Linked DNA regions of Homo sapiens. The gene in region 6 interacts genetically with the main gene of each other region. Each region holds a gene or a part of one and is shown on either strand. Other genes may lie near its edges. The genes, in order: HUS1, COPS5, SNRPD3, RBM17, CARS1, XRN2 and EIF3H.

The links.
Region 1: changes in XRN2 (region 6) and HUS1 together harm fitness less than expected from each alone (positive genetic interaction), as found in Homo sapiens cells (one large-scale study listed by BioGRID).
Region 2: changes in XRN2 (region 6) and COPS5 together harm fitness more than expected from each alone (negative genetic interaction), as found in Homo sapiens cells (one large-scale study listed by BioGRID).
Region 3: changes in XRN2 (region 6) and SNRPD3 together harm fitness less than expected from each alone (positive genetic interaction), as found in Homo sapiens cells (one large-scale study listed by BioGRID).
Region 4: changes in XRN2 (region 6) and RBM17 together harm fitness more than expected from each alone (negative genetic interaction), as found in Homo sapiens cells (one large-scale study listed by BioGRID).
Region 5: changes in XRN2 (region 6) and CARS1 together harm fitness more than expected from each alone (negative genetic interaction), as found in Homo sapiens cells (one large-scale study listed by BioGRID).
Region 7: changes in XRN2 (region 6) and EIF3H together harm fitness less than expected from each alone (positive genetic interaction), as found in Homo sapiens cells (one large-scale study listed by BioGRID).

What each region holds. Positions count from the first base shown.
Region 1 is NC_000007.14:47,969,171-47,973,878, forward strand, and holds part of HUS1 (checkpoint protein HUS1), read right to left. Parts: intron 149-4,708; coding exon 49-148; intron 1-48. UniProt on the Homo sapiens protein: Component of the 9-1-1 cell-cycle checkpoint response complex that plays a major role in DNA repair. The 9-1-1 complex is recruited to DNA lesion upon damage by the RAD17-replication factor C (RFC) clamp loader complex.
Region 2 is NC_000008.11:67,048,217-67,052,924, reverse strand, and holds part of COPS5 (COP9 signalosome complex subunit 5), read left to right. Parts: intron 1-1,583; coding exon 1,584-1,695; intron 1,696-4,708. UniProt on the Homo sapiens protein: Probable protease subunit of the COP9 signalosome complex (CSN), a complex involved in various cellular and developmental processes.
Region 3 is NC_000022.11:24,565,496-24,570,203, forward strand, and holds part of SNRPD3 (small nuclear ribonucleoprotein Sm D3), read left to right. Parts: intron 1-2,488; coding exon 2,489-2,681; intron 2,682-4,708. UniProt on the Homo sapiens protein: Plays a role in pre-mRNA splicing as a core component of the spliceosomal U1, U2, U4 and U5 small nuclear ribonucleoproteins (snRNPs), the building blocks of the spliceosome.
Region 4 is NC_000010.11:6,111,826-6,115,490, reverse strand, and holds part of RBM17 (splicing factor 45), read right to left. Parts: intron 3,282-3,665; coding exon 3,130-3,281; intron 1,984-3,129; coding exon 1,910-1,983; intron 1,443-1,909; coding exon 1,344-1,442; intron 253-1,343; coding exon 180-252; intron 39-179; coding exon 1-38. UniProt on the Homo sapiens protein: Splice factor that binds to the single-stranded 3'AG at the exon/intron border and promotes its utilization in the second catalytic step. Involved in the regulation of alternative splicing and the utilization of cryptic splice sites.
Region 5 is NC_000011.10:3,002,545-3,006,249, forward strand, and holds part of CARS1 (cysteine--tRNA ligase, cytoplasmic), read right to left. Parts: intron 2,890-3,705; coding exon 2,822-2,889; intron 57-2,821; coding exon 1-56. UniProt on the Homo sapiens protein: Catalyzes the ATP-dependent ligation of cysteine to tRNA(Cys).
Region 6 is NC_000020.11:21,308,937-21,313,644, reverse strand, and holds part of XRN2 (5'-3' exoribonuclease 2), read right to left. Parts: intron 1-4,708. UniProt on the Homo sapiens protein: Possesses 5'->3' exoribonuclease activity. May promote the termination of transcription by RNA polymerase II.
Region 7 is NC_000008.11:116,727,674-116,732,381, forward strand, and holds part of EIF3H (eukaryotic translation initiation factor 3 subunit H), read right to left. Parts: intron 1-4,708.

The DNA.
Region 1 (4,708 bases), on a different chromosome or scaffold from region 6:
AAACAATTAACTTATCCAAAGCAAAATATAACCCACTAGAAAACTTACCTAATGGAGGATTTCCAAGATCTTTAAAATGAGTTGTAACACATACTAATTCAGTTTCTATTTTCAAATTCAATTCTCCATCTAGGTTTGCTTCAATAACCTGCAAATTGAGTATTTTACATAGTCTTAGAAAAGGAAGCCAAAAGGAAAAAAACTCCATGGGCAACAGCTTTCACACAACCAGATGACAAAGTACCCTACAAAACCTCAAAACACCTCAGAGCACACTGAGACCCCCGTGCTATCAGGGAAAGTGAGAAGATAAGGCCCAAGAGCCAAGAACTCAGAAATCTCCCAAAAATCTCAAAGGGGAAGTCCCCCTGCCTGCCTCCCGGAATGAAGAACTCAGTGAAGATGTGAAAACAGGTGGAACTCCGAGAGGACTTGCCAGGAGACTACAGCAGCACAAGGGCAGGGCTCTAGGGAGGGCTGGGTGGAGCTGATGAGAACTCCCTCACAGCAGGAGAGAGTCCTGCACTGAGAAGGAACCACGGGAAGTAAGAGCCTCAACTAAGCAGAATGGGCACCTTGGGCAAAAAAAAGGGAATGAAACTTTAAATGAAGGAAAAAGAGGGACAGATCTCAGAAAGTCCTGGGGATGTGGTGAGGATGCATGTTTTAATATTTTGTGGTTACAAAGAATAGAGAATTCTAGAGTCATTAAATTAGAAAACTATTTTGGTCCACTTTCACTCCTACAATGAAACTTCCTCCTAAAAGAACCAGAAAAACCAGCCGGGCGCGGTGGCTCTCGCTTGTAATCCCAGCACTTTGGGAGGCCGAGGCGGGCGGATCACGAGGTCAGGAGATCAAGACCATCCTGGCTAACACGGTGAAACCCCGTCTCTACTAAAAATACAAAAAATTAGCCGGGCGTGGTGGCGGGCGCCTGTAGTCCCAGCTACTCGGGAGGCTGAGGCAGGAGAATGGCATGAACCCGGGAGGCGGAACTTGCAGTGAGCCGAGATTGCGCCACTGCACTCCAGCCTGGGTGAAAGAGCGAGACTCTGTCTCAAAAAAAAAAAAAAAAAAAAAAGAGAAATGAACAATAATAGACGCTATGACACAACAACATAAATCAGAATTAGGGAAGCTCAGACATGAGATGACCAGAGAGCACGCACATAAAACACAGCTGACAGCACAGGAAGTAATTAGAAACATAAGGAAAAATTTCAGAAACAGAAACTAGTTTAGAAGGAAGACTAGAGCAAATAGGCACCACAGAGAGAATAGTAAGAGAAACTGGGATGGAAAGGAGAAAGATAAAATTTACCAAACAGAAACAAAGAGTTAAAAGGATCTGACAGAAAATAATAAAGACAGTGGAGAAGATCCAAGCCCTCTGAGTCCCAGAAGAAAAACAAAGCACTGGAAAAGAAATGCTATCAACTACAGCTCAAAACTTTCCTGAAGTGAATGAAGAGTTCGGCCCACATATTGAAAGGACACACCACACACCTGGGAAAACTGACCCCGGATGGTCAAGACAATTGGATTGAAAGAAAAATGGGAAAAATCCCCAGGGTATTTAGTCCCCACTTTCAAATGAATAAATCCAAGCTGTGAAACAAAATCAGAATGGAGTCATTCTTTTTGATAGCAATAATATACACCAGCAGACAATGCAGTGCAGTGAGCCAAACTGACATTATAAACACATGATAACCAATGAAATCCTATTCCTGTGAGTCCTTCTTGAGTGATATGCTAGAGAATAGGCTTTTAATAACCAAAAAAATCATTGGAGAAGTTACAGCATAAACAGTGTGAGCCTTATTTTGACCTTTAGAACCAAAACTAAACAACAGGAATGAAGAGGACAGAATAACGTGTAGTAATAAAATTTTATGCTCTGATGATGTAGACATAATATAACCATTACAAAACAGGAAGGGGGAAAATGAGAAGAATGTGGAAATCAGTGTCTTATTTTTATAAAATATAAATCAACCATTTGTCATAAACACACATTTAATATGACTATAAGGCCTTCAGAATCTCATGAGAACATAGCCATTTATTTAGAAAATAAACTCACATGTTGGAAAATGAAATGTCCAAATCCAGAAGGGTCTGGGGCTGCTGTTGGGTTACCAGGACTGAGGATGGCTGAGCCAAACTCCACACGCCCAGGCTACCAGACTTCTGCCATCCCCTCATATACCATCGGGCACCCCTCTTCTACTCCTGCTCTTGCTGCCCGGGGACTGTCTCCACAGGTCACAAGGGACTCCTTTCCTTTGAAGCTCCTCTACCCACCCCAACAACCAATCAGTTCTTTTAATTGGATGGAACCTAGAAGTGAAGCATATGCCACAGTATGGTTTGAGGTTTTGCTAACCTATCCTGGTCCACTCCCGCACCTACAATGAAATTTCCTCCTAAAAGAACCAGTACCTGTTATTTCTCTTTTTGATGTTGATATCTGCCCAATGTTAAAGCCTAGGAGGTCTCTGGAAAGCCAGTGTGTAGTCTGCTGGATAGCATTTTGCCATCTAGTACTAGAAAAGTGCCACCTAGCAACTGGTCTTATTTAGGGCCATTCCATCCTCACAGTGTCACAGAAAGAAAACAGAGAAGGCACTCTGTCTGCACGGCTCTGTATCAGTGTTCATGTTTACTGAATACAATTTAGTGTTCCTTGTTCTTATTCCTTAAAATTGGTGAACTCTGAATAGTTTTCATTCCAGAAACAAAGTTTTTCTAATTTGGGTGAGCTCTTATTTCTGAGCTTTTCACATTAATAGAAAAATAGTGCCCCAAACTTACCTGTTGTATAATCTACTTTGAATGAGAAATACTCATTTTCAACCCTTTTCTTTCATTAATCCAAAAAAATATATTGTTATATTTCCTAACCCGTTTTCCTACAATCTGGAACAATAGTTGACTGAAATAAAATATATAAAACAATCTTTGTGAATATGCTAGACTGCTTAGTGGGGCTAAGGCTAACACATGACCTTAGCTCATTTGTTCCAAACAACCACACACCCAAGATCTGTAAATTCCCATTGTTTTGAAAAGCAATGGTTTTAGATATAAATAAATAAATACTTATTTAAAAATGCAACTTGCAATGGGCCTAGATGCACTTCAGGCTTAAATGTTCTCTTGTGTTTTCTTCAAATTCCTAAGAATCTCAGTAACAGAACATTAGATTCCAACTCCCTCCTAACCATTAACACCTGGTGCCTAGCACATGGTGGCCTTAAGTCAATACTTACTGAAGAAACTAACAAACAACTAATTCTCTGAACACTGGTCACTCATGTCTATTTTAAGATTCAGTTATTTGGGATATTATACACAACAACACACTTGATTTCTTAAGTATCAGGGTAAGATCTTTCAATGATTTCCTTAAAATAGTCAACTATTGTTTATAGAATGCTGACTATACTGGGCACCTAGTAAAAATTATCTCTAAATTTTTAAAAACTGACGAAGCCCCTGTCATAGCTGCACTGTTATCCCCATTTGGGGTAGTATCCAGCACTAGGGTACTCACTGCACAGCGCAGCCTGGAGCTGAACCCAGGTATGTGGCTCCAATGACTCCCCTCTTCCATATCATGACTCCTAAACATAGACTCTGGTTTCTATCATTAGGTGACCCTGCAGAGCCGTTTCTCAGATAACATTTGAAGTACAATATAGTATGGCAATGATGTGGTTTGTTTTGGCTCAGCAACCCCACCCAAATCTCATCTCGAATTGTAATCCCCAAGTGCTGAGAAGGGGCCTGGTGGTAGGTGACTGGATCATGGGGGCAGCTTTTCCCATGCTGTTCTCTTGATAGTGAGGGAGTTCTCATGAGATCTGATGGTTTTAAAAATGGCAGTTTTTCCTGTGTTCTTCTCTCTCCAGCTGCCATGTTAAGACGTGCCTTGCTTCCCCTTTGCCTTCTGTCATGACTGTAAGTTTCCTGAGGCCTCCTCAGCTATACAGGACTGTGAGTCAATTAAACCTCTTTTGTTTATAAATTACCTGGTCTCAGGTAATATCTTTTTAGCAGCGTGAAAACGGAGTAATACAGGCACACATCACAAAGTACTGCTACATGATGTGGTCTGAAGACAGGCAGCATCGACATCTCCCAGGAGCTGGTCAGAAACAGAGCCTCAGGCTCCAGCTCAGACCTCCCAAATCAGAACCTGCACTTTAACCAGATTCCAGGGGATTCACACGCATGGTAGAACTTAGAAGCAATGTCTTAGAACATGATGTCAATTCCCTCCAGTTCTTGCTTCTTTTTCTGCTCCTGCATGAGTCACATACAACCCACCCCATCAGTCACACCTCGCATTTAATGAAAGGAAGTAACTGGGCATCTCTAATGGGAAGGTGGGCATTTTTAGTGTGTTAAGTCTACCCATTTTCCTTAATTCTACTGCCTGTAATATTCAGATACAGAATTCTGGATACCCAGGAAGACCTCATTATGTACTTTGCTACAGTAACTTGATAACTTTCCATTTAGTAATTCCAGATCGTAGTAGCCTCTCCACAATATTTCTATGTTTTTTTAAACTCCAAAAAAGAGAAAACAAAACACCTCTGATGATTCTAAGCTACCCTTCTACCTCTCTACCTTGCTGACTCATTTTCATTGAACAGAAAGAACAAACAAATGCCATCCTTCAATTAACAGCCCT
Region 2 (4,708 bases), on a different chromosome or scaffold from region 6:
TGTATTATTACTCTACTCAAGTACCTTCCATTCTACTCAAGCACCTTCCAAGAGTCCCGGGTATCTACAGGATAAAGTTTAAATTTCTTTTTTTTTTTTTTTTTAAGACAGAGTCTTGCTCTTGTTGCCCAGGCTGGAGTGCAGTGGCGCGATCTCGGCTCACTTCAACCTCTGCCTCCCGGGTTCAAGCGATTCTTCTGCCTCCGTCTCCCAAAGTTTGGCCGAGCACTGTGGCTCCCAGCACTTTGGGACGCCAAGGCGGGCAGATCACCTGAGGTTGGGAGTTCAAGACCAGCCTGACCAACATTGTGAAACCCCATCTCTACCAAAAATACAAAAATTAGCTGGGCATGGTGGAGGGAGCCTGTAGTCCCAGCTACTCGGGAGGCTGAGGCAGGAGAATCGCTTGAACCCGGGAAGCAGAGGTTGTGGTGAGCTGAGATTGTGCCATTGCACTCCAGCCTGGGTGACCAAGCAAGACTCTGTCTCAAAAAAAAAAAAAAAATTCTTAACCTTTTGTGTAACATCCTTCACCACCTAGACCCCAGCATAGCTTTCTAGCTTCCCCTCACATAATTCTTCTCTTGCTAAATTTTCCAGCTAAACCCATTGCCTTATTATCTCTTACATGTCTTTCCTTTTTGTGTGTTGATGCTCTCTGCCTAATGCCCTCCTTGCTCTCCACATATCCATACCATAGACTCAAAAATGTTTACCCTACACCTTGCCTTTTCCCTGAGGCTTCTCAGGCAGTTCTAGCTTGAGCTCCTCTATATGAAGAATACTTATTATCTCTAACCCTTAGTTGGTAGGTGATTCATTTTATATAGCACTGTAGCATCACTTATTGTTATTCAATGTATATCATTATATTTAATTTTGATGTGGGTTTAGACCACATCCCCCATATAAATGTTGAGTTCCTTAAGGTAAAGATGTCTCATGCTTTTTTATATCCACTGATACACAGAAGCATGTGTAAGTTTAAGATGTAAGTTTACATCTTAAAAATATATGTATTTTTCAGACATTTAACTAGATTTTTCCTTACTATGCCCTGATGATAAATTAGGCACCTTTGAAAGTGGGAGCAATTATTTTAGATGCCTTAAGGACCTACCTTAAAATTTGCTTTTCAAAAAGCAGTAGGTCCTAACTGGGGAATTAGGAAGGGAAGAATGGAATCCACATGTCATTTTTATTATTTTAAAGAGGCTAACAAAAATTATAGTTGACCCTAGAGAGGCAGCTTATTAAGTTTATGTGCTGTTGGCTTGAATTTATGAACTCAGTAACAGGAATAAACTTGTCATTCAGAAGTTTTGACTGGTTGTTAATAACATTTGGGGAATTTCTGGGCTCTACAGAAAAAAAGGAATAAAACAAGAAGTTTAGTAGGAGATTTGGATCCACAACCCTTGAAGTGTGAGGAAACCATGGTTAGCTATTGCCTTATTGGAATAAAGACTAAAATGTGAATATTTGAGAATAAAGTGTAACTCACTTAAATCTGGCCATAAGTTTTATGTGACGTAGTTGAATTTTTTTTTTTACTTACTAAATTTTATGCTTTTATTTCATAGATATTATGCCTTAGAAGTCTCATATTTCAAATCCTCTTTGGATCGCAAATTGCTTGAGCTGTTGTGGAATAAATACTGGGTGAATACGTTGAGTTCTTCTAGCTTGCTTACTGTAAGTACTATACTTGTAAAGAATGCATTTGAATTTTATCTAAGCTTCATAGCCGTTTAATATCTGAAACACTGTTTCACAGAAAGGCTATACCTGACTTGGCCAAGACACCAGGGCTAGGGTGGGATTCTGCACCACCACAGCTGGATTAGGATTCTAGGCCAATTCAGGATCTGTGTCATGACCCACAGAGACCAAGTCTAAGTAGCAAACAGAGTGTCCAGATCAGGGTGAGATCTGCCCCTGCCATAAGGAGATTTATGGATTAAAAAAATACACATATTGATTTTTGTGTATCAAGTGTCTCAGCTTGGACTCTGGTTACAAGTAACAGGATACCTAATGAAACGAGCTTAAACAAGAAAGGGAATTGTGTAAGTTGCAAAGTTGAGGAATAGGGCTTAACTCAGGCACAGCTAAGTTTGCATTCAACCAATATTATGAGGTCTTTTTTTTTTTTTTCTTTCTCTTAGCATTGATTTCATCTTAGTTAACGCTAGTTTCAGGCTTCATGTGAAAGCAAGACGGCAGCTTTAGCTTTAGACCTCCAAGTCTCTCAGCTTCATGTTCAAAAAGAAGGTCAAGATACACACACACACACACACACACACACACTCTCACACTCACATATTTCCAGGTCAAGATACACACACACACACACACACACACACTCACACTCACATATTTCCGGGCAAAACTTCATTGTGTCTGACTGGCTTTACTTAATCACATGCCCATGTTTAGGCCTGGTGTGGGCCAACTGAATAAGCTTGATGAGCGGCTTGCGCCACGGCAAGTGCTTTACTGCTGAGCCGCAGCGTAGAAAACTCCTTCAGGAGCTCAAGGACTAAAAATGGGGAGGAGAGGTTCCCAGAGTGAATCAGAAGAGCATTACTTTAAAGCAGTAGATACTAGGAGAAAAAAAAAGAGGCCGGGCGCGGTGGCTTACGCCTGTAATCCCAGCACTTTGGGAGGCCGAGGCGGGCGGATCATGAGGTCAGGAGATCGAGACCATCCTGGCTAACACGGTGAAACCCCGTCTCTACTAAAAATACAAAAAATTAGCCGGGCGAGGTGGTGGGCGCCTGTAGTCCCAGCTGCGCGGGAGGCTGAGGCAGGAGAATGGCATGAGCCCCGGGGGGCAGAGCCTGCAGTGAGCCGAGATCGCGCTACTGCACTCCAGCCTAGGTGAAAGAGTGAGACTCCGTCTCAAAAAAAAAAAAAAAAAGAGAGTATCACTGAATTTTTTCTGATAATATCATAAAAACTTAACATATTTGGTAGGATATTATTTAACAAACTTCTCTATATTTAGAACTTAGGAACAATTTTTTTATTTTTCTAAAAAAGTAGGCCATTTCATATACTGCAGTATATATAGTGGTTAGAACCACAGGATTTAGAATTAAATAAACTGGGTTTGGAGAATATGAGCTACAGCAGCAGGAGTCATAGCAGGACCGGCACTTAGAAGTTTCTTATGCTCTTTGATGGAGTATTGGTTGAAAGGAGTACAGCTGAAACTGTAACCAAAGGAGGCATTACGCTTCCAGAAAAATCTCAAGGTAAAGCATTGCAAGCAACAGTAGTTGTTGGATTGAGCTTTCAAGGAAAAGGTGGATTCAACCAGTTAATGTGAAAGTTAGAGATAAAGAATTATTCTCCCAGAATATGGAGGCACAAAAGTAAAGAACTACTTTGCAACTCTTCAGGTTTATTCAGTTGACCTGGAAGGCCAAGGATTTTTTTTTTTTCTTTTTCTTTTCGAGACAGGGTCTCTGTCTCTGTTGTCCAGGGTATTGTGGTGGCACGATCTCAGCTCACTGCAGCCTCAACTTCCCAGGCTTGAGCGATCCTTCTGCCTCAGCCTCCCAAGTAGCTGGGACTACAAGGGTGAGCCACCACACCTGGCTAATTTTTGTATCTTTTTGTGGAGACAGGGTTTTGCCACGTTGCCCAAGCTGGCGTTGAACTCCTGGGTTTGAGCAATCTGCCCGCCTTGGCCTCCCAAAGTGCCATTACAGGCCGTGAGCCACCATGCCCAGCCAGATTATTTCTTATTTAGAGATGCTGACATTCTTAGAAAGTATGTAGACTGAAGTAAATCACTATTGAAATGCCATCAACATGAAGCTGCTCATTGCACTTAAGTTCTGAAATATTTAATTATGTAAATAATTGCCATGTCTCTTCTATAATAAACAAATGATATCTATACTAAAAAATAAAACTGACTTTGAAAACAACTCTGCCACTTTACTAGTTCTGAATGACTTTCAGAAAGTTATTTAATGTGACTAAGCATTTCTTTGTTGTAAAATGTTGATATGCTACATACATCATTAAGTACTCTGAGAAAATTAAATGGGCTACTTTATATAAAGCAATTAGCAAAGTGTCTGGCATATAATAAAGCCTCAATTAATGATTTTTTTTAATTTGGTGCATTATATTCATGGGAAAAGACCTCACTTAAGCCTATTATTTACTGGAATTTTTTTTTTTTTTTTTTTTGAGATGGAGTCTCACTCTGTCACCCCGGCTGGAGTGCAGTGGTGCAATCTCAGCTCACTGCAACCTCCACCCCTCCAGGTTTAAGCAGTTATCTGCCTCAGCCTCCGGAGTAGCTGGGATTACAGGTGCGTGCCACCACGCCCGGCTAATTTTTTGTATTTTTAGTAGAGATGGGGTTTCACCATCTTGGCCAGGCTGGTCTTGAACTCCTGACCTCGTGATCCACCCGCCTCAGCCTCCCAAAGTGCTGGGATTACAGGCGTGAGCCACCGCGCCCGGCTGGAATTTTTTTTAGGCTAGTCAAGTGAAGCAGTGTATTTACTGTTATTTTAAATACAACTCTGACAAGCTTTCTGTTCTTTTTTTCCTTTTTTCCTTTTATTTTATTTTATATTTTATTTTATTATTTTATTTTACTTTATTTATTTTATTATTTTATTTTATTTTGAGACAGGGTCTCACTCTGTTGCCCAGGCTGAAGTGCAGTGGTGCAATCACA
Region 3 (4,708 bases), on a different chromosome or scaffold from region 6:
TAGTTGAGGGAACGGAGGCTCAGGGAAGCCTGGAGATATACCTAGGGTTACACTTCTGACAAATGGCAGAGCTGGATCTCACCTATAGGTCTTTAGGCCTATTTTGTGTCTTCTACAGAGTCATGAGTGTGGCACAGTCCCCAAAACACGTTTTTTGTTTGTTTGGTTTGTTTTTTGTTTTTTGAGACGGCGTCTTGCTCTGTTGCCCAGGCTGGAATACAGTGGCGTGATTTTGGCTCACTGCAACCTCTACCTCCCGGGTTCAAGTGATTCTCCTGCCTCAGCCTCCCGAGTAGGTGGGACTACAGGCACCTGCCACCACACCCGGCTAATTTTTGTATTTTTAGTAGAGCCAGGGTTTCACCGTGTTTGCCAGACTGGTCTCAGGTGATCCACCCACCTCGGCCTCCCAAAGTGCTGGGATTACAGGCATGAGCCACCGCGCCCAGCCCCAAAACACATTTTAATTGTCAGTCAGATTCAGGTGAGCCTGAGTTGTATCCAGTTTCTGTCTTGGGTAGTCTGACCATAAACCTGGCGTTCATTTGTGGCACTAGAGGTTATGGTATTCTTCAGGGGAAGAAAAGGATTGGTAAGGACTTGGGAACTGGATGAAAATTTAATAACAGGCTGGGAGTGAGGAGCCTGGAGCAGAAGGTTTATGAGAAACTGGAGCCCTGTTGCCCCTGAAGGTAGAACAGGGATAGTGGGTAGAAGCTCTAGAAACCATTCCTCTAGAAACTGCTCATATACAACAGGGGCGGCCCCAGAGCATAGTTTTGTTTGTTTTATTTTTGAGAGGATCTTGCTCTGTGGCCCAGGCTAGGGTGCAGTGGCTCCATCACAGCTCCCTGCAGCCTCGACCTCCCAGAACCAAGTGATCCTTTCACCTCAGCTTCCCGAGTAGCTGGACTACAGGCACATGCCACCACACCCAGCTAATTTTTGTAGAGATGAGGTCTCACTGTGTTGCCCAGGCTGGTCTCAAACTCCTGGGCTCAAGTGATCCTCCCACCTTGACCTCCCAAAGTGTTGATATTACAGACATGAGCCACCACACCTGGCCCATAGTTGTTCTTTTCTGAGTGTTCAAGCAGAGGCTGGGTGGCCAGTTAGCACTTGAGGAAAAGAATGAATGAGTATAAGATGGCAGCTAGCCAGACAGAAATCTGCAGAGACAGCACATCTTTCTACAATAAGGGCTGACCCATTCTAAATAAATTATAGTTCTCTCTCTTCAGAAGGTTCATACAATAAGCTGCTTTTTCTGTAAATGTGGTGCTTGTTGAGGTTGATGCTGGCAGATTGGTATCACCCTCCCATGCCAAGCTGGTCTCACCTTCAGGCTCCCCATTTGTCCATCCTGCAGTCTATCCTTGTTGCCACATTTATCTTTCCTGAGTGCTGCCTTAACCCTATTGATCTTTCCTCTATCGACAAACTTGACTGACTCCTTTATCTGAAGTAACGACCCCGTCCAGTGTCATTATTCGACTGCTCTGGTCCTCACATCCTGTAGGCTCCTGCCCAAGTGCCTGCTCTTTTCCTTGTGCAAGCTCTTGCCTCATAACCCTCCAGTAATTTCAGGCCCTTTTTACAGGCCTTGTGGTACCACCTCCATTTCTCAGTCCCTAGTCACTCAACCTAGAGGGTTCTGTCTCACCTTCTAGAGTATGCACTCTGGAGGGTCAGAACCACATCTGGTATATACTTGTGACCTTCATGGTGCCTTTGAAATCTGAGTGCCAGGCAGTGCAGGGGAAGACAGTTTGGACCAGCAGTTTGAAGCTGTTTTCGTTAGGGTTTAGCACCTTCAAGAGCTCTTCACATCTTTGCTCAGCAGGCAGTGCAGCACAGCCAGGGCTCTGAAGCTAGGCCAGCTGGTTCGAATCTGGAGTTCCCTGCATTCCAGCTGTTTGACCTGGGATAACTGCTTTGGTTTTTTTAACATGTAAAGATGGGAGCACTCGGCTGGGCGCAGTGGCTCACACCTGTAATCCCAACACTTTGGGAGGCTGAAGCGGGCAGATCACCTGAGGTCAGGAGTTCGAGACCAGCCTGTCCAACCTGGTGAAACCCCACCTCTACTAAAAATACAAAATTAGCCGGGCATGGTGGCGCATGCCTGTAATCCCAGCTACTCAGGAGGCTGAGGCAGGAGAATCGCTTGAACCCGGGAGGCAGAGGTCACGGTTAGCCGAGATTGCACCATTGCACTTCAGCCTGGGCAACAAGAGTGAAACTCCATCTCAAAAAAAAAAGGGGGGGAGCACTCATACCCACGCTGAAGGTGTTGTGAGGACTGTTTAGGTAAAGTGCTCAGTGCAGTCCCTGGTGTACACAGTTAGTACCGATGATTGCTGGGTAATTCACCAGCTTTGTCACAATGTCAGTCTGCTTTTCTGGACTTCCCCCTCCCACCAGTCAAGGCCCTCCCCACCGCTGGTGCTGTTGACCGTTAACTTATTAGCTGGTGATTTCCTTCCAGATGTCCAACATCACAGTCACATACAGAGATGGCCGAGTGGCACAGCTGGAGCAGGTATACATCCGTGGCAGCAAAATCCGCTTTCTGATTTTGCCTGACATGCTGAAGAACGCACCCATGTTAAAGAGCATGAAAAATAAAAACCAAGGCTCAGGGGCTGGCCGAGGAAAAGCTGCTATTCTCAAGGCCCAAGGTAGGTGCTTTTCATGCACAGGTTTTAAAATATAGGTTTGTCTTGTGTCTTGTAGAAAGGGGCCCTATTACTGCCTGGAGACAGAGAGGGTTTGACCTCTGCTCTCTCCACACCCACCACCCACTGCCACCCCTTCCCCTTGCAGCGTGGAGTGATCCTGTGAGGCCATTATTTTATTTTTTTGAGACAGAGTCTCGCTTTGTCACCCAGGCTGGAGTGCGATGGTGTGATCTCAGCTCACTGCAACCTCTGCCTCCCAGGTTCAAGCAATTCTCCTGCCTCAGCCTTTCAAGTAGCTGAGATTACAGTGCGCACTGCCCTGCCTAGCTAATTTTTTTATTTTTAATTTATTTTTATTTTTATTTTATTTTTAATTTTTTTTAATTTTTTTATTTTTTTGAGATGGAGTCTCGCTCTGTCGCCCAGGCTGGAGTGCAGTGGCGTGATCTCGGCTCACTGCAACCTCCGCCTCCCGGGTTCAAGCAGTTCTCTGCCTCAGACTCCTAAGTAGCTGGGATTACAGGCACCCGCCACTGCGCCGGGCTACTTTTTGTATTTTTAGTAGAAACGGGGTTTCACCACCTTGGCTAGGCTGGTCTTGAACTCATGACCTTGTGATCCACCTGCCTCAGCCTCCCAAAGTGCTGGGATTACAGGCGTGAGCCACTGCGCCCGGCTTATTTTTATTTTATTTATTTATTTTTGTATTTTTAGTAGAGATGGGATTTCACCATGTTGGTCAGGCTGGTCTTGAAGTCCTGACCTCACATGATCCACCTGCCTCGGCCCCCTGAAATGCTGGGATTACCAGTGTGAGCCACCGCACCTGGAGAGGCCCATCTTTTCTAGAAGTTCTGTGTGAGAGGTGTGGGATCGCTTGCCCTTGTCTAGTTTGCCGAGCAGACACAGCCCGGAGCAGATGAGCTGACTCGAGTGTGAGGGCAGCATTTCCTAGCGAGACTGGGTCTTATGGATGGACACCAGCATGTACTTAGGGAGGTCTGATAGTGGAGCTCCGTTTTCAGAAATAAAGCCACCTTTTAGTACATTCCAAAAGTGGGACTGTCCTTTTCGCAGTCCCCTAGTCTGGTCTTGCTTCTTGGTTAGCCTAATTTGGTTTTATATTTAGGTTCATGAAAGTTCTGTCATGTTGATTAGACAACAAAGTAATTGTGGCCCTTGGAAACTGTCTTAGTGTTGGTAAAAAAGGTTTGCAGCCAAGGAAGGCACTGGATTCTTCATTGGTATCTTTAGCTGCTGTACATGTTTTATATGTGTGTGAGGAAAAAAGTCAAACTGTGTTTTTCCTCTGCTCTCACAACACAACAATCAACAAAGACTTCTGTGACCAAGCAAGCAGTCAGTTCTGCAGTAGACACCAGCTGGGTGTCCTTCAGTTCTGACACTATCTACCTGGAGATAGCCTGAAAAACCACAGGTTGAGGGCTCGGTCCCACAAGACAGCCCCTGCACCCCCCACTATTATTCATAAGCACAGGCCTCCAGAACATCTGAATGGCTTCAAGCCAGGGTTCTCACGTCTCACTCCTTGGGTTCGATTAATTTGCTGGAGTAGCTCACACAACTCGGGAATCACATACTTAAATTTACTGGTTTATAACAGGATATTTTATAGGCTACAAATAAACAGCCACATGAAGAGATGCATAGGGTGAGATCTGGAAGGGTCGCAAGCACAAGAGCTTCTAGCCCCATGGAGTTTCCTCCCGGCACATGGATGAGTTCTTGTTCACCTTCCTGTCAGGCTGCGCATGATCAGCTGTCCCGAAGCTCCCCTAACCCTGCCCTCTTGGGCCTTTTATGGAGACTTTATTGGATAGTCATGATTAAAGGATGGACAACCATGTGGAAATGCCATTAGACAAAATGGGTGTGATCTAACACTAATAGACGGGGTTGGGAAACCCCGCGAGGCCTGTCCAGATTCTTTTTGGCCTCTCTCTGCAGCATTTGTTCCTCCAGGGTATAGGGCAGGACCTTTCTCTGGAGTGAGGTCTTATGACCCA
Region 4 (3,665 bases), on a different chromosome or scaffold from region 6:
CCGTCCACCAAAATACCTCCCATTCAAGTCAACAACCGCTGAAAGGCAAACAAAAGACAGTTAATACAGGTATCCTATAAGATAAAGGTTTAACTTTAATTAAACAGTAACTTTACTTGTAAAGATTAAGGCTGTAAATTCAACTTTTTTATTCTTTAATATTTAGCTGTACCACTAACCTTTAATTGCTGATTCAACTCTCTCAAATTCTAAAAATATCCGTACTGCTTCATCATCAGGGGCACCAGGAATCTGGAAGAAAATGAGAGCGTGATGAGTAAAGGCATTTGAGATTGCATTGAATGAGTTTTCTCTTTTAAATGATTTCTCAGAGTGGATATTCTAATTATCATCATATACAGTCAAGTAGTTGTCAAATACCAAGGAAATAAGTATAATTTGTTCATCATCAAAAACGTACTGAATGCCTGTTTTTATGACAGGCATTGTTAGGTGCCAGGAACACAGGGCTAGGCAGTCTCTGACCTCATAAAGGCCCTGTGCCAGCTGATGACGTAAACAAATAATTATGTGGTCAACAAACAGCAACAGGATAAAGAAACAGAGGAAGCAGAGCTTTCAGATTAAAAAGGCTGGTGCCCTAGTGGCCTTTCACATCAGGTCTCATTTTGACTAGCTCTGTCTAGCTTTCCTAGCCCTCTGTAATTCCACCCACCTAAGCACTTCTGCTAATCCCCAACAGGCCCATCCATTCCATTTTGGTAGTCCTGATCTTCACTGTCTCCTACGAGCCATTATCCCAATCAGAATACCCTTCCCTGCAAATCCCACCTGTTCGTTTCAAAGCGCAGCCCATATCTGCTATTGCTCACAAGGCAGTCTATTTTTTCACTGATCTAATCCTTTTCTCAACTCCTGAACTTAGTCAATACTACCTAGTCTAGTAACTGAATATCTTTCAGTTATTTTATGTGTTTCTTCAACTGAACACACCACTGAGAGTACAGAGCATGCTTCCTGTAATCCAAGTGCTCTCCGCACAGTGCAGTGCATGTGAGAGGCACTAAATACTCACCAAATGACTGAAACCAAAGGCATGTCTAAGGAACTAAACTACTGAGCACGCTAGAATCAAGGTCTTCAGTCATCATACTGATCCTCAATCATGAAGCATTCCTGTTTCTTCATCAAATAAAACTTGAAATCATTGTCTTTATGTTTAAAACTGTAATAATTGAGCAAGAGAAGTACAAATAACCAACGCCTGTCACCTTCTGCAGTAAGAATGTTACTTATAGCATACCCTGTCCTGTTTGTAGAAAATGTTTTGTAATGTGCCAATTACAACTTGTGTTATAAACATCAAAAGAAAACACTCTTACTTCAAATATCACACATTTTCCAACTTTGCCATATTTTTCACATTCTTCCTTGGTTTCAACTTCCAAGTCTTCATCCACCTCTCCCGCACCAACCATGTTCTTTAAACACAAAAATAAACAAATTCAAGTACCAAGTATAACTTACAAACACCTAGCAGAGGTATATAAATATGACTTAGTGATGGTAAATGTTCTCAATCCCAAACGACATAATGAAAAATTTCATCCCCAAAGTACCCAAAAGTTAGTATTTCTTAAAACACTAAAACATATATTAAGCCTGTAAAGAGTTACAAAAGCATCTATGCAAGCACCAAAATGTATAAACTATCTGAAGCTCTAGCAATTTCAAATATTTAATTACTCACTGCAGTCTTAAACACTGTACTTAGCAAAGAGACTTACACATTAGTGAAAAATCTAAAATCAGCCTTACGTGGGATCTGCCCAAAGTATTATTTGCAAAAGTATCATTTTCAGTTTTAACTTTTAGGGGGAGCAGGGTAGGCTGGGGTGACACACACAAATCTAGGCAGGCAGAGAGCTTGCTTTCCTCAGCTTCTTACCCTTAGTAAGACCACTTTAGTAGGACACTTAAGTATTTCAGTCAGCGGATTTGAATCTGACTTCTTGGATGCATCTGTATCAAAACATACCATTAGATGTGTTACAGAACTGAGCAGCATATCATTAGATGTGTTACAGAACTGAGTCCTACTTACAATAATTAATTTAATTTCAATAGCGATCCCCACCATTTATGTCCTAGGCATCTACACAATTGGTCTCTGAGCGAAAACACAGCCTTATCTGCAATAAAAGCCTCTGCTTTGCTTTGGCATGTTTTTACAATAGCATCTGGATGTTTTGAGCCTCCACCATTACTTGCAATTTTTGCTCATCTCACTTCCCAAAGGGCTGACAGGGCATGTGAGTGATAATTCCTATAGGTGAGTTGACTTGGAGCAAACGTTCAAGGTCACGGGCCCAGGGGAATATGCAGTTACTAATCCAGCCACCGGCTGCCTTACTTCAGATAACCTCACAAGTCGGGACAACTGTTGGTTTCTGGCACTCACCTGTCAGGCTCGTGATGTATCCTAAGCTGTGCATGAACGGGGCTGCCAGAAAAGTTTTCTTCTTTCTTTAGCAAAGGAAGTTCAGCTAGGCTGACTCAAACTTAATTCCCTGATTAAAATGCTAACATATGTTTGTCTCTTTCCTGAATTCCCTCAACACAGAACAGACTGTAAAAATTAAATGAAAATAAAACACCAACTAGGCATCATTTACCAAGAGACTGCAACATAACATCAGATCTCGCAAAGCAAACAATCTGTAAGAGAATCAGAAATCACATCTATACTGAAAGGGCAAAAGGGAAAAGTAGAGACGACCTCTGAGATGGAGATAGCAGGTATATTCACTGCCACACTATATGGCTCTGTCCTTCATGCTCTAAACACATAACCAAGATTTCTTCCTGAGGACTACTCATTTTCTGCCCAAGTCTCTCACCATCTTTTCCTCCACAAGCCTTCATCTCTCTACGTCTGTTCTGAAAAAATAAAGATGAGCCTCAGGATTCCTGGTTTCACAAAACGGAAGTGGCAGTGCATCATATGAACAGGACGGCCTGTGTTCTAGTGATGGCAGGGCCAGCCCTCTCCCTCTGGCCACACGCCTCATTGTCCCCCTGCTGACACATGAGGATCAAGACTGGCCATGTCTGATATGGATGGGGCCAGTCCTTTCCCTCTAGTCACACGCTTCCCTGGGGACACACCTTTCTCTGTGGCGTCGCCCACGATGATCTTGCCGCCACGCTTGCTGGTCTTCTCCACTGACAAGGCAGTGCTCAGGCCCTGCTCATGCTTCCCCAGACCCTGGCCCTCCCGGAAGCCGTACTTCTGCATGATCTTGTGCGCCACCGTGCCCCTGGCAGGAGAAGAAGGGAAAGGACTCTTAGCCTTGACATCGTCAACTGGAGATAGGTTGCATTTTTCCATCACAACAACCTCCTTCTGGAGAGAGTGCATGCTCCACAGGGGCTTCAACAAAGTCACTCATTAACTAGGAGTGGGCTATTAGATGGAAGCTGTGGGGATGTGCAGCATGAAAGAAATAGAAAAAGCTATGAATAAAATCCAGAACATCCTGTTGTCTTGGAGGGGAAATGTCAGTTTCTCTGGTGGAGTCTCCTCAGTGCCCTGCTAGGAAACACAAGACCTTTTGTGTGCTCCGGACCTGCACTGCCACATAGCTTATGACCACAGTTTATTAAAAAGTGGCTATCAAAAAGTAAGTATGAAGTTTCGTACA
Region 5 (3,705 bases), on a different chromosome or scaffold from region 6:
TGTTCCTGTTTCCTCCGGGCCGCCTCCTCTTTCTTCTTCCTCTTCTCCTCTTCAACCTGGAGGGTCAATACAGAGCCAGATGAGACAGGGCTGCCTCAGGCTGCTGGGTCTCTCGGAGTGAGAGGTCTAGCCAAACAAGCCCCTCTCCTAGGGCCTGGCATGGAGGGCTGAACTCTGACCAGGCCCTCCCCACTGTGGGGAGACAAGCCCATGTGCCGGGCAGCACACCGACCCTCTTCCATTCCCTTTGGGGATCCTCAGCGGCACCCCTGGGTGCCTGGCCCTGCCCTAGATGCAAAGGTATGCAGCAGGCAGACAAACAGAACCAATGCTAAAAGATCCAGGCACCACTAACATGAAGAAATGGACCAGCATGGTGAGCCTGGCCCAAGGAGAGAGGATCTGTAAGGCAATGACCAGGACAGCACTGTGAGGGTTATCCTGAGTGGGTCTTGGGGTACCTGGGAAGGAGCAAGAGCGCCAGGGCAGGATGGGGATGGTGGGCGGAGGGCAGCCTTGGGGGCTAGGTGAGGAGACCAGAGCCCACTCCAACCAGCAGGCAGCACCCGGGCAGGGGCGAGGACAGTCTGATGCTGCAGGGAGAGCTTATTAGTGGAGCCAGCAGGCTGGGTGCCGGTGAGGGAAGCCCTCGGTTGCTTTGGGAGGTTCTGGCCTGAGCCATTGCACGAACAGACATGCCCTCCACTGACGGAAAAGGAGCAAGTTTGGGGAGTTGAAAATCACATTTTCACCTTTCCTTTGGACAGCCTAGGTTTCAGATGCTTCCCAGCCCAGTGGAGCTATCAGGTAGGCACGCCCTCCATGGCAGGAAGGAGGAACAAGTTTGGGGAGTTGAAAATCACATTTACTTTGGACAGCCTAGATATCAGAGGCTTCCTGGCCCAGTGGAGCTATCAGGTAGGCAGCTGGGCAAACTGTTTTTGGGCCACCGGCTACAAGATAGATGGTGGAGAAGCCGCAGGACCAGATAAGGTCTCCTGGGGAGGCGCCACACACAGAGCTAGGGAAAAGAAACCAGGAAGGCACAAAGGTCTCAGAGACTCAGGATGGGGCTGGGGCCAACAGGATCGAGCTCTTTCGAGATAGATGGAGGGAGAGCAGGGCTGGCCGAGGGAAAGGGGCTGAGGTGGGGGAGGAGCTGGGCACTGAGCTTGGAGGAACCAGAGACACAGTGCTCAGGATTTCTGCTTTTTCCCTTTAAAAGTTAGTATGTGTTTATGTGCTGGTGGGAATGGTACAGGGAGAGGCAGGACCCCTCCCCCATGGTGCCTCGGGCCTGGGGATGCCTTCTTGCAGCAGCTTGGTGAGGTAAGAGTCCCTTGGTTGGGAAACAGGAGCTACTAGAAGTCACAGGCCACAGCCAAGGTGGCCAGTGGAAAGGCCAGCACAAAGAGTGCAAGGCCTGTGAGGCTCTGGCCGGGCCACCCTGGCGCTCCTCTTGTCTGTTTCCTGCTTCTGAGCACTCTGCCAGGGAGTGCAGCAAGCCAGGGCGTCTGCACAGCCAGCACCAGGCCACCTCACAGCACAGCACGGCAGGCGAGACCCAAGGCTAGGTGAGTGACTGTGATGGAATGGGGAGGGGCCCTGATGAGGCAGTCACACCAGCCAACCTCACAGGGCAAGCCCAGCTCTTCCCAACCTGCCAACCAGGATGGACCTGCAGACCACTCACCACTGTCTAGAGCTTTCCCCAGAGTTCCAGTTCGTTATTCCTCCAAAGCACTGCAAACTCCAGCCACCCACACTTGGATCTGGCATGAGCTCTCCCCTCGTGCCTTGGGCCAGTGCAGGGCTAGGCATAGATGCCTTCCCTGACCTTGTACATCCCATCTATCAATCAACCACCCTGTCGATTCTCCTTCCTCAGTTCCTCCCAGAGCCTCCTTCCTGAGAGCTGTGGCATCCAAACTCGCCCTCCACGGTGGTCTCCTGCTTTAAGCCTCTTGGGGACCCACCTGCTGGTGGCAACAGCCCCCATGGCCCACCTCCCATGGTGTGCACTGGGGGCCCAGGTGCCTCTCATCCTGCTGCCTGCATCCCAGGGTACCCCATGCGCTGTGCCCAGAGATTCTGACATTGCGTTTTTGTTCCTGTTCTTCTGTCCTATTGGGCACCGAGGAACTTGGGCCATCCCTGATCCTGGGGGCGTTGTGGGGTGCAGGTGGGGAGTATGCTGGGAATAGGAGGTGGAGATGCATCAGTGACACGCGCCACTCAGGTGAGGGCACGGTGGGACTGGGATCTTAACATGTCAGCTTCGGGCCAGGCGTGGTGGCTCAAGCCTGTAATCCCAGCACTTTGGGAGGCCAAGGTGGGTGGATCACGAGGTCAGGAGATTGAGACCAGCCTGACCAACATGGTGAAACCCCATCTCTACTAAAAAAATACAAAAATTAGCTGGGCACAGTGGTGCGTGCCTGTAGTCCCAGCTACTTGGGAGGCTGAGGCAGGAGAATCCCTTGAACCAGGGAAGTGGAGGTTGCAGTGAGCCAAGATCGTGCCACTGCACTCCAGTCTGAGCAACAGAGTGAGACTCCGTCTCAAAAAAAAAAAAAAAAAAAAAAGTCAGCTTCACAGTTTGCCAAAAGTGACTGGTTTTCACTTAAACTGAGGGAATAATCTTTTTAAAAGAGGTCCTTCATTAGAAGATACTAGTTAATTTTTCTTTCTGACATTTATAAATACTGGGATTTTAATAAAAGTGTAAACATCAATGCTTAAAAAGTAAACTATGTAATAATCGCAATGGTTTTTACATTTTCAACAAATATCACGCTTAAGTCATTTTCACTTTACTCACCCGTCTCTTTTCTTCTCTCTCTTTTAATAAGGTGTTTCTGTCTACCAGTTTCACCACTGTGGGCAGTCCTGCAAAATAAACTGCGTGTGAGAAGAGTCTGGGCTCTGTGGGCCGTCCCCACTGCGGGGCCAGCCCTGCCCTGCCCTGCCCTGCCCAGACCATGCGGTGCTGCCCAGTCAGAGCGAGGGCCCACAGGAGAAAAACAAACAAAAACCTCCATAGCAGCAGTGAAGCACAGGAGAACATTTTGGTTTGTGTGTGTGTGATTTTTTTTTTTTTTTTTTTGAGACAGAGTCTTGCTCTGTCATCCAGGCTGGAGTGCAGTGGCACGATCTCAGTTCACTGCAACCTTTGCCTATCGGGTTCAAGCAATTCTCGTGTCTCAGCTGCCCAAGGAGCCCACACCCAGCTAATGTTTTGTATTTTAGTGGAGACGGGGTTTCACCATGTTGCCTAGGCTGGTCTCGAACTCCTGAGCTCAGGTAATCCACCCACCTCAGCCTCCCAAAGTGCTAGGATACAGGTATGAGCCACCACACCTGGCGAGAACATTTTGTAACGAGAAGGTAGGAAGGTCTTGCCAGCCAGGAGTAGGAAAATAGGACATGACATCTGAGATTTAAAATTACCAGGGGCAGAGTGGAAGAGTGGAATTGGAGGGTTCGTAACACAAAGAAATGATAAATGCTTGAGGTGATGGACATCTCAGTTACCTAGATTTGATCATAGTACCTCATACGCATGTATCCAAATATCACACATAGCCCATAAATATGTACAACTATTATGTATCCATAAAAACTGAAACTAAGGCTGGGCATGTGGCTCATGCCACTTTAGGAGGCCGAGGTGGGCAGATTACTTGAGGTCAGGAGTTCGACACT
Region 6 (4,708 bases):
ACATAAACTACTAAACATTAATTTACCAAATAAAATTCTGAAATCAGATTTTCCAAATAGTTGCCATTTAGCAAATGCTTCTGTAACAGGATTGTAACTGGTATTAATACATCTAATCCACACAACCACCCTCTGTGATACATACATAGCCAATCTTCATTATTCATGAATCCCATATTTGCAAATATGTCTACTCACTGAAATTTATTTTTAACCCCAAAATTAATAATCATGGTACTTTCGCAGTCATTTGTGGACATGCACAGAGCAGCGAAAAATTGAGTCACCCAACATACACATTCCCAGCTGGCAACAAATGAGGACACGCAGCCTTCTGCTTTCAGCCCTTGCACAGAGATGACCAGAGGGGGAAACTGTAGGGAGCAGCACAGTGTAGCGTAGTGTGTTAACTTACACCAAATTTGGCCTGAGGATGGCTCCTTACTGATTCTTCACTTGAAGAACTGCAATATTACTTACATAAAGTCCACTAAGGAAAAGCCTAACTTAGGAGCATACTTCTGTAACAAAAAGCAGAGTCTCCGCCAATCGCAGCAGTCGAGCTTCAGTCAATCACAGGTTGCCAACTTATCTGGCCATGTTTAAATAAGCCAAAAGATTAAGCTGTTTCTGTACCTCACTTCTGTTTTCAAGAGCTCCCCAAACCTCTTCTGGTTCTGAGGGCCACTCAACTGGCAAACTGTTCATTGCTCAATTGAACTGTGTTATTTAATTTATCTAGGGCCCAGGCATGGTGGCTCACGCCTCTAATCCCAGCACTTTGGGAGGCTGAGGCAGGCGGATCGCCTGAGGTCAGGAGTTCAAGACCAGCTTAGCCAACGTGGTGAAACCTCTACTAAAAATACAAAAATTAGCCAGGCGTCATGGTGCACACTGGTTGTCCCAGTTATTTGGGAGGCTGAGGAAGAATGGCTTGAACCCAGGAGGCAGAGGTTGCAGTGAGCAGAGATTGCACCACTGCACTCCAGCCTGGGCAACAGAGCAAGACTCTGTCTTCAAAAAAAAAAAAAAAAAAAAAAAATCTTGGGGTTTGGTTTTAACAAGAAGCTCTGGCTCTCTAGAGTTTAGGCATTTAAGTCATTTTCCGATGGTCAGAAAGCTGATAAATGGAGGACTGCATGAGCCAAGCAGTTAAAGTATATGAAGTGAAGAAGCTGATGACTGAATCAGTAAAGAGTTCTTAATAAGTGAGCAAAGGGAATAAAATGAAATCATAAAAACACAACCTAAGGCCGGGCACGGTGGCTCACACCTGTAATTCCAGGAAGTCAGGAGATAGAGACCATCCTGGCTAACACGGTGAAACCCTGTCTCTACTAAAAAAAAATAAATAAATACAAAAACTTAGCTGGGCATGGTGGCAGGCGCCTGTAGTCCCAGCTACTCGGGAGGCTGAGGCAGGAGAATGGCGTGAGCCTGGGAGGCAGAGCTTGCAGTGAGCTGAGATCGCGCCACTGCACTCCAGCCTGGGCAACACAGTGAAACTCCTCTCAAAAAGACAAAAAAAAACACAACCTAAAAGAAGGCATAAGACTTAAGAAACTGAAACAATGAACAGATGAGACAGAAAACAAATAGTAAGATGACAGATTTAAATCTAACCATATCAATAATCTTTTTTTGTCTTTTGAGACAGAGGCTCGCTCTGTCGCCCAGGCTGGAGTGCAGTGGAACAATCTCAGCTCACTACAATCTCAGTATCCCAGGATCAAGTGATTTTGTGCCTCAGCCTCCTGAGTAGCTGGGTTTATAGGTGTTGTACCACTATGCCCAGCTAATTTTTTTTTGTTACTTTTTTAGTAGAGACGAGGTTTCACCATGTTGTCCAGGCTGCTCTCGAACTCCTGGCCTCAAATGATCCATCTTCCTTGGCCTCCCAAAGTGCTGGGATTGCAGGCGTGAGCCAACATGCCTGGCCATCAATAATCATTTTAAATATAAATGTTCTAAATGGCCCAATTACAAAGCAGACTAGAAAAACAGTTTGGTGGTTCCTCAAAATGCTAAACACAGAATTACATGATCCAATGATTCCACTCACAGGTACATACTCAAAAGAACTGAAAGCAGGGACTAAAAAAGATACTTGTACACCAATGTGCATAGCAGTGTTATTCATAATAGACTAAAGGTAGAACCAGCCAAAGTGTCCAGAGTGTGACATATACTCCCATATACAATGGGAGTATCATTCAGCTTTAAAAAGGAATGAAATTCTGAGACATGCAACAACATGGACAAACCTTGAAAACACTATGTTAAGAGAAATAAGCCAGACACAAAAGGAAAAATATTATGATTTCATTTACATAAGGTAACTAGAATAGGCAAATTTATAAAGATAGAAAGTGGGGAGGGGGACAAGGAGTTACTGTTTAACAGGTAGCGTTTCTGTTTGGGATGATAAAATTGTTCTGGAAATAGACATTGGTGACAGTTGCACAACAATTTGAACATACTTGGTTCCATTGAATTGTACACTTTAAAACAGTCAAAATGGTAATTTTATGTATGTTTTATCCCAATAAAAAGAGGGGGCAGAGATTCTCAAACTGTATAAAAAAGCCAGACCCGGACAGGCGCAGTGGCTCACGCCTGTAATCCCAGCACTCTGGGAGGCAGAGGCGGGCAGATCACGAGGTCAGGAGATCAAGACCATCCTGGCTAACACAGTGAATGAAACCCCATCTCTACTAAAAAAAAACAAAAAAATTTGCCGGGCGTGGTGGCGGGCGCCTGTAGTCCCAGCTACTCGGAAGGCTGAGACAGGAGAATGGCATGAAACCGGGTGGCGGAGCTTGCAGTGAGCCGAGATCGCGCCACTACACTCCAGCCTGGGCGACACAGCAAGACTCCATCTCAAAAAAAATAAAAAATAAAAAATAAAAATAAAAAAAAGCCAGACCCAATTGTTATGTTACCTACAAAAACGTCCACTTTAAACATAAAGATGCAAACAGGCTAAAATAAAAGAATAGAAAAAAACACACCATGCTGACACTAGTCAGAATAACTGGCTGTATTAATGACAAATAAAATAGATTTCTGAGCAAATATTAACCAAGAATAATGAAGGTCATTTCATAATAAGTGTATTATCCACCAAAAAACTAGAACAATGTTAAGCATTTATGCACCTAATAAAAGAGCTTCAAAATACACAACCAAAAACCAATAGAACTGAAAGGAGAAACAGAAAAATCCAAAAGTTATAGTCAAAATTTCACAGCAGCAGAAAATGTATCCTTTTCAAATACACATAAAACATTTATAGAGACCATATTCTGAACCAGTCTGATAAACTTCAACAGACCTCAAATTAAATATGATCTCTGATAAGGGAATTAAATTAAAAATCACGAACAGGAAAAAATACCTGGAAAATCTCCCATGTGTGTGAAAATTAAGTCACACTCTTAAATAACCAGCGGGCCAAAGGGAGTTTTAGAACATATTTTTAAGTGGATGAAAATGAAAATACAACATGTTAATATTTGTGGCACACTGTTTAAACAATATCTAGAAGGCAATTTATGGCACTCAAGATCTATATCAGAGAGGAAGAAATGTCTCAAAACAATGACCTCAGCTTCTACCTTAATAAACAAGGAAGAGAAAAAACAAGTTAAACCCAAAGTAAGCATAACAAATACATATAAGAGCAGAATCAAAGAAATAGAAAACAGAAAAACAATAAAGAAAATCAATGAAACCAAAAGCTAGTTATCTGAGAACAGTGTAGCCAGACTGATAATGGGACAAAACAAAGAAAGTAGAATTACAAGTATCAGGAATGAAAGAGGTAACATCACTACAGATTCTAACAATATTAAAAGGATAATAACAAGTTAACAGGAAGAAAAAAGAAAACAAAAGAGAAGTAAAAACAGGAGTGAAAACATTTTAATAACAAAAAAAAAAGGATAGTAAGAAAATACTATGAACAACTTTATGTCAGCCAATTCAACTACTTAGATCAGGGGTGTCCAATCTTTTGGCTTCCCTGGGCCACTTTGGAAGAAGAATTGTCTTGGGCCACTAATACTAACGACAGCTGATGAGCTGAAAAAAAAAGAAAAGGTCTGTGCATAAATCTCATGATGTTTTAAGAAAGTTTACGAATTTGTGCTGGGCCGCATTCAAAGCATCCTGGGTTGCATGCAGCTTGCAGGCCACAGGTTGGACAAGCTTGACTTAGATGAAATGGGCAAAATCTGTGAAAGATACAAACTAAAAAAGCTCATCCAAAAAATAAATAAATAAATAAATAGGTAACCTCAATAGTTCTAGATCAACTAAAGAAACTTAATTTGCAGCTTAAAGCCTTCCCACAAAACTCCAAGTCCAGATGGCCTCACTGGTAAATTCTATCAAACATTTTAGGAAGAAACAATACTAACTCTACACAAACTCTTCCAAAAAACTGAAGGAACTCAATTTGAGGTCAACATTATTCTGACATCTCAACTACACATTACAAGAATGCTACAAATATCTTTTGTGAACAGAGACACAATTCTCAAGAATTCTCAAGAAAACTTTAGCAAACTTTAGCAAACTTGAATTCAACGTATATAAAAATAATACAACATGATCAAGTGAGGTTTATCCAAGGAATGCAAGGTGGCTTTAGCATTTAAAGACCGATAATTCACCATATGACTAGACCAAAAAATGGAAACCACAG
Region 7 (4,708 bases), on a different chromosome or scaffold from region 6:
AAATGGCAATATGGAGTTGCAGTCCTGCATTTAATGTCTTGAACATTTTAAATTACTTTCATTCCCACATTATTTTTTAGTAGAATTGTTTCCTAAAGAAAAACACTCTTTGATCATGGCTCTCCCTGTCATAATTCTGTGCACTGTAACATCTTTGGTCGTGGTAGTCCTGCTTTTCTAATGAACTTTGTTAATGTGCTGTGGAAGATTGAAAATTTGAGTATGTAGTCTATATGGTATTATACTGTGAATTGGTGAGATCTATGTAACAGCTTACTAACATGTGAAGATACTGGTACTTGATAGCCTCTTATGGAAAATTTGCTTCCCAATTTTAAGCTGGAAAGTCACTGAAATAACTTTTTAAAAATTACAACACATGGCTTTTTAGATTTTCAGTATATATGTTAAGAATTGTGTACAAATTGAAATGTCTGTGTACTGATCATCAACACGACCAATAAACCAATTATGAAAGAAAAAAAGAAACTAATGACCAGTTAATAACAGCACATTACATTTACTAAACATTGTATGACAGGCAATAATCTAATTATTTCACATGTATTACCCTATCATGTAATTCTCACAACCACCTTAGGAGAAAGGTACTGTTAATACTCATTTTATAGATAAGAAAACTGAGGCAGAGAGAAATTAAGTAAATGGCTAAAGGTCACACATCTAGGAAGTAGTAGAGCCAAGATTTAAACCTAGTTTAAACCTAGTTTTAGGTTTAAAAGTAGGTTTTTAAACCTAGTTTTTAAACCTGGGAGATGATTTTCATATTAGTAACTAAATTGATAGTTAAAATAACCAGGTAGTAATAGACAACAGATATGCAGTAAAAACTGTGTTATGAATAGACCCAAAAAGACTACACCAGTAAGATACAGAACTCCAAAGGAGAGCAAGCAGTCAGCAGGGAAAAGAGCTCAAAATGGAGTAACACCAACTAATAAGATTGGCAGACCTTCAATACTACGAAATGAAAGTGCACAACCTACACATTCCTGTATGAAAGACCTCTCCACTTCTTGAAAGGCACAAAAATGGACTTGATGAGTCATACAAGTATGGGTATGAGTTCCAGCTCCAGCATTTACTAGCTGTGACCTTGAGAAAGCTATTTAATCTTCTCAAGCCTTAGATTCTAATTTGCAAAATAGCACTATTTCATAGCATTACTGACACTACTAAAAATGACACAGTATAGAGTTCTCTGCACAGAGTCTGCCACATAGTAAGTGCTCAATAAATGACCAATATTGTTGATATTTGTCAATAACTATTTAATGCTTATTCAACATACCTCTCTGCCAAGAAAAATTATTTCTACACTTAAAAAATAGAACAAATACAGGTGATCAAGACGGGATAAACTAAACTGATAAAGAGTTATTACAAACACAACTACCAATTCACCTAGGTTACCTAGATTCCTTTATACTTACCCCTACTAATGAGATTGCTAAACCACTACTGAAATCAAAGTAAACAAGAGATATTAGAAGATATATGAGCTTAACATAGTTCTTCAGACAAATTCTAGAAGTGATTCCTAAACAGCTGATTCCTACATATGCAAAAGGGAATACTGGTGACTAGGACCAGCACAGTTTCATAAAGAAGCCAGATGAAAATAACCTCATTTCCAGTTATGAAGAAAATAGCAATAAAAAAATTAATATATTTTAAAACAAGTTATTACAGTTCAAACTATATTGAAAACTGTCTTAACTCTAACAAAAGTGAATTCTAAAGGGATCAGTAAGGATAATGTAACCAAACAGCACACCAGGCTTGACATGCTTGCCAAACAGCCAATGCAATTTTATGTAGTATCAATAGAATACAGCGCTCCAAGTAAAAGAAATAATTATCTCGCTCTTTCGACATCACTGAACTGTTATCCTCAGTTCTTTACAATGACCCAAGAGAAAATTTACCAGTAACAGTACCAAACTAAGAAATGAGAAAAGCACAAAAAACAATCAGTATGAGTAAGAATCCACAGAAAAGGGTAATTACAAGAGAGAAAGCTTAAAATCCTGTGATGAGAACCAGTAAAATTAATGCAAATCTCTCTCTAGGCAAGGGACACTCAAAAAAAGCACTTTCCAAATACTGAAGAGTTCTTTGGCTGCTTAGAGGATTAGTCTTACTTTGAAGGCAAAACCTAAGAACCACAGGTGACAGTTTCTGGAAAGAAGATTTCAACTCTAAGGATAAATTCTCTCTAGTACTGAAGGCTGTCCAAAAAAGAAAGCATTCAGGAAAGACTCAATCACTAAAATAATTTCCAACTTTAATATTTATGATCTTGTCATTTTAATATAATCTGATAAAGTACTCAGGAAAAAATCACTATTATCAAAACTAAGCTAGCTCATTCTTCATTGTGACATTTTATGATCGTCCTATTTCCTACATACACACTAAAACCTCAGTTCTTTAGTTCAAGAAGTAATGTCATGGAAATGCCTTACAGTAGGATTCATTTGGAGCAGGGGTTCCCAACCCCAAGGCCACGGACAGGTACTGCTCGGGAACTGCTCTGTGGCCTGATAGCAACCTGGCTGCACAGCAGGAGGTAAACTGCCTAAGCTCTGTCTCCTGTCAGGTGACCAGTGGCACTGATTCTCATAGGAGCACAAACCTTTACTGTGAACTGCACATACAAGGGAGCTAGGTTGCATGCTCCTTTGAAGAATCTAATGCCTGACAATCTGAAGTGGAACAGTGTCATCCAGAAACCATCCTCTCACATCCCCGCAACCCCCCACGTGGAAAAACTGTCTTTCACGAAACCAGTCCCTGGTGCCAGAAAGGTTGCAGACACTGATTTAAATGTTAAAAGGAAAGGAAATTCCTGATTAAATATAACTAAATGACATACATACTTCTGCTATTCTACATAGATAACCAAGAATTTGCCATGTATATATATTTCAAAGTTTCATAGATTCGAAGTATCTTTTAATAGAGACAGAATCCATGTTGTGCTCATTGTTTCCCCTCGTGAATGTTCCCATAAAAATGAAAGGATGATTTACTCACCACATCTTCAACACCTAACACAGATACTGGCACATAAAAGATACTCAAAATATATTTTGCTGAAGGAATGAATGGCAAACACTTATCACTTATGATATGTCAAGCACTCCACCGTCTTACGTGCAAGGACTCATTTAATCCTTACAACCACCCTGTGAAGTCAGTTATATTATTTTCCCATTTTACATAAGGAAACAAAGATAAGCTGACAGGGAATTTAGCCAGGGAAGTGAGATCTGACTTCTGAGTCCAAAGCACTTCTAATTACTTCACAATAAATGAGTGATACCAAACTGAGTGCACCAAATATGTTGATAACAGCAAGGCTGAAAAAGACACATGGAAAGCTTAACCATTCTTCAAAACAAAAACACTCTCCTGTTATATTTTGCTTATATGTATCACAAATGACCCCACATTTGTGATACATATACACTCAGGAGCCCTATTTACTCATTCCCAGCTGAGCAAAATCACCTAAAGAGCTTTTTTTAGATAAATGAAGAGGGGTCCTCATTCTGGATACACATTAGAGCCATCTGGGGAGCTTTAAAGTATACTAATGCGTGAGCACACTCCTGAAATTCAGCTAACTGATACCGGCTGGGTTCCTATACTGGGTTTGGTAGGTGGTGTCTGTTTTTAGTTCTCCAACTTACTCTAACATCCTATTTAGTTCTAATTTCTAATGAAGTTGTATGGCCTAGCTTTCCTTTGTTTTTGTTTTGTTGTAACTCCTCAGGTGACTACAATACACTGCTGGTCAAACCCCAATTTCCTTTCCTCTGTTTTAAGACTTCGTGGGTTGCTGAAAAGTGAAGGCACTGAGAAATACAGACCCAAAAGTGAACATGTTGTTTATAAAAGCATAAATATCACCCTAATAAGAGGAATTCAAGCCCTAGTTGGAACAATCTCTACAGCATATAAACAAGAGGGAAGGTAATACCAGCAACCCATCTTGAAACATTCATGTTTTCTGCAGCACAGTAAGACTTACACCTTAGCATCTGACCCCGTTATCTAAGACTGTTAAGAACCGATGCTGACTAGATTTGTTTACCCTATAAATTAGTGGGTAAATGAGGATTCTTCCATGAATTATGCCTCAAGGGACAGAAGCAAACTTGCCAGTAGAAACCCAACTTAGCAAATTCTTCTACACCTTCTGAAACTTTGTCATGTTCTGGGTGTAAATGCTTAAACTACTCTATGTGCCCTAAACAGTAAGTATTGTTCTCTGATTAGGTCAGTTGTCTCTCAAACTGTTTCCCAGATTTCTGAAGTTTACACAGTCTCAAGTTGGGCAGATCTTCAAGGAATCCCAACCTGCAAGATAGTAAACAGATGTCCTGTCTGCTGAAATTACCCTGCAGGGAACAGTTTTCTACTATTGTTCATTATTCAGTGCAAACTATTTGAAAAAGCAAAGCAGACTATACGCCATCTCTAATGAACACAATGCTACTTTTTAAAGTGTCTGGCTTTAAAAAAAAAAAATTAAAACCTATCTTTGCCCAAAAATCTAAAAGCAAGAACGGATTTAACTTCTATGACAAGTATTCTCTGTATTATAGGGTAAAATATAAATACCAATCTAAAATAGCCAAATAAATAACATTATAAGTCAATAAATCTAAAATTTAGA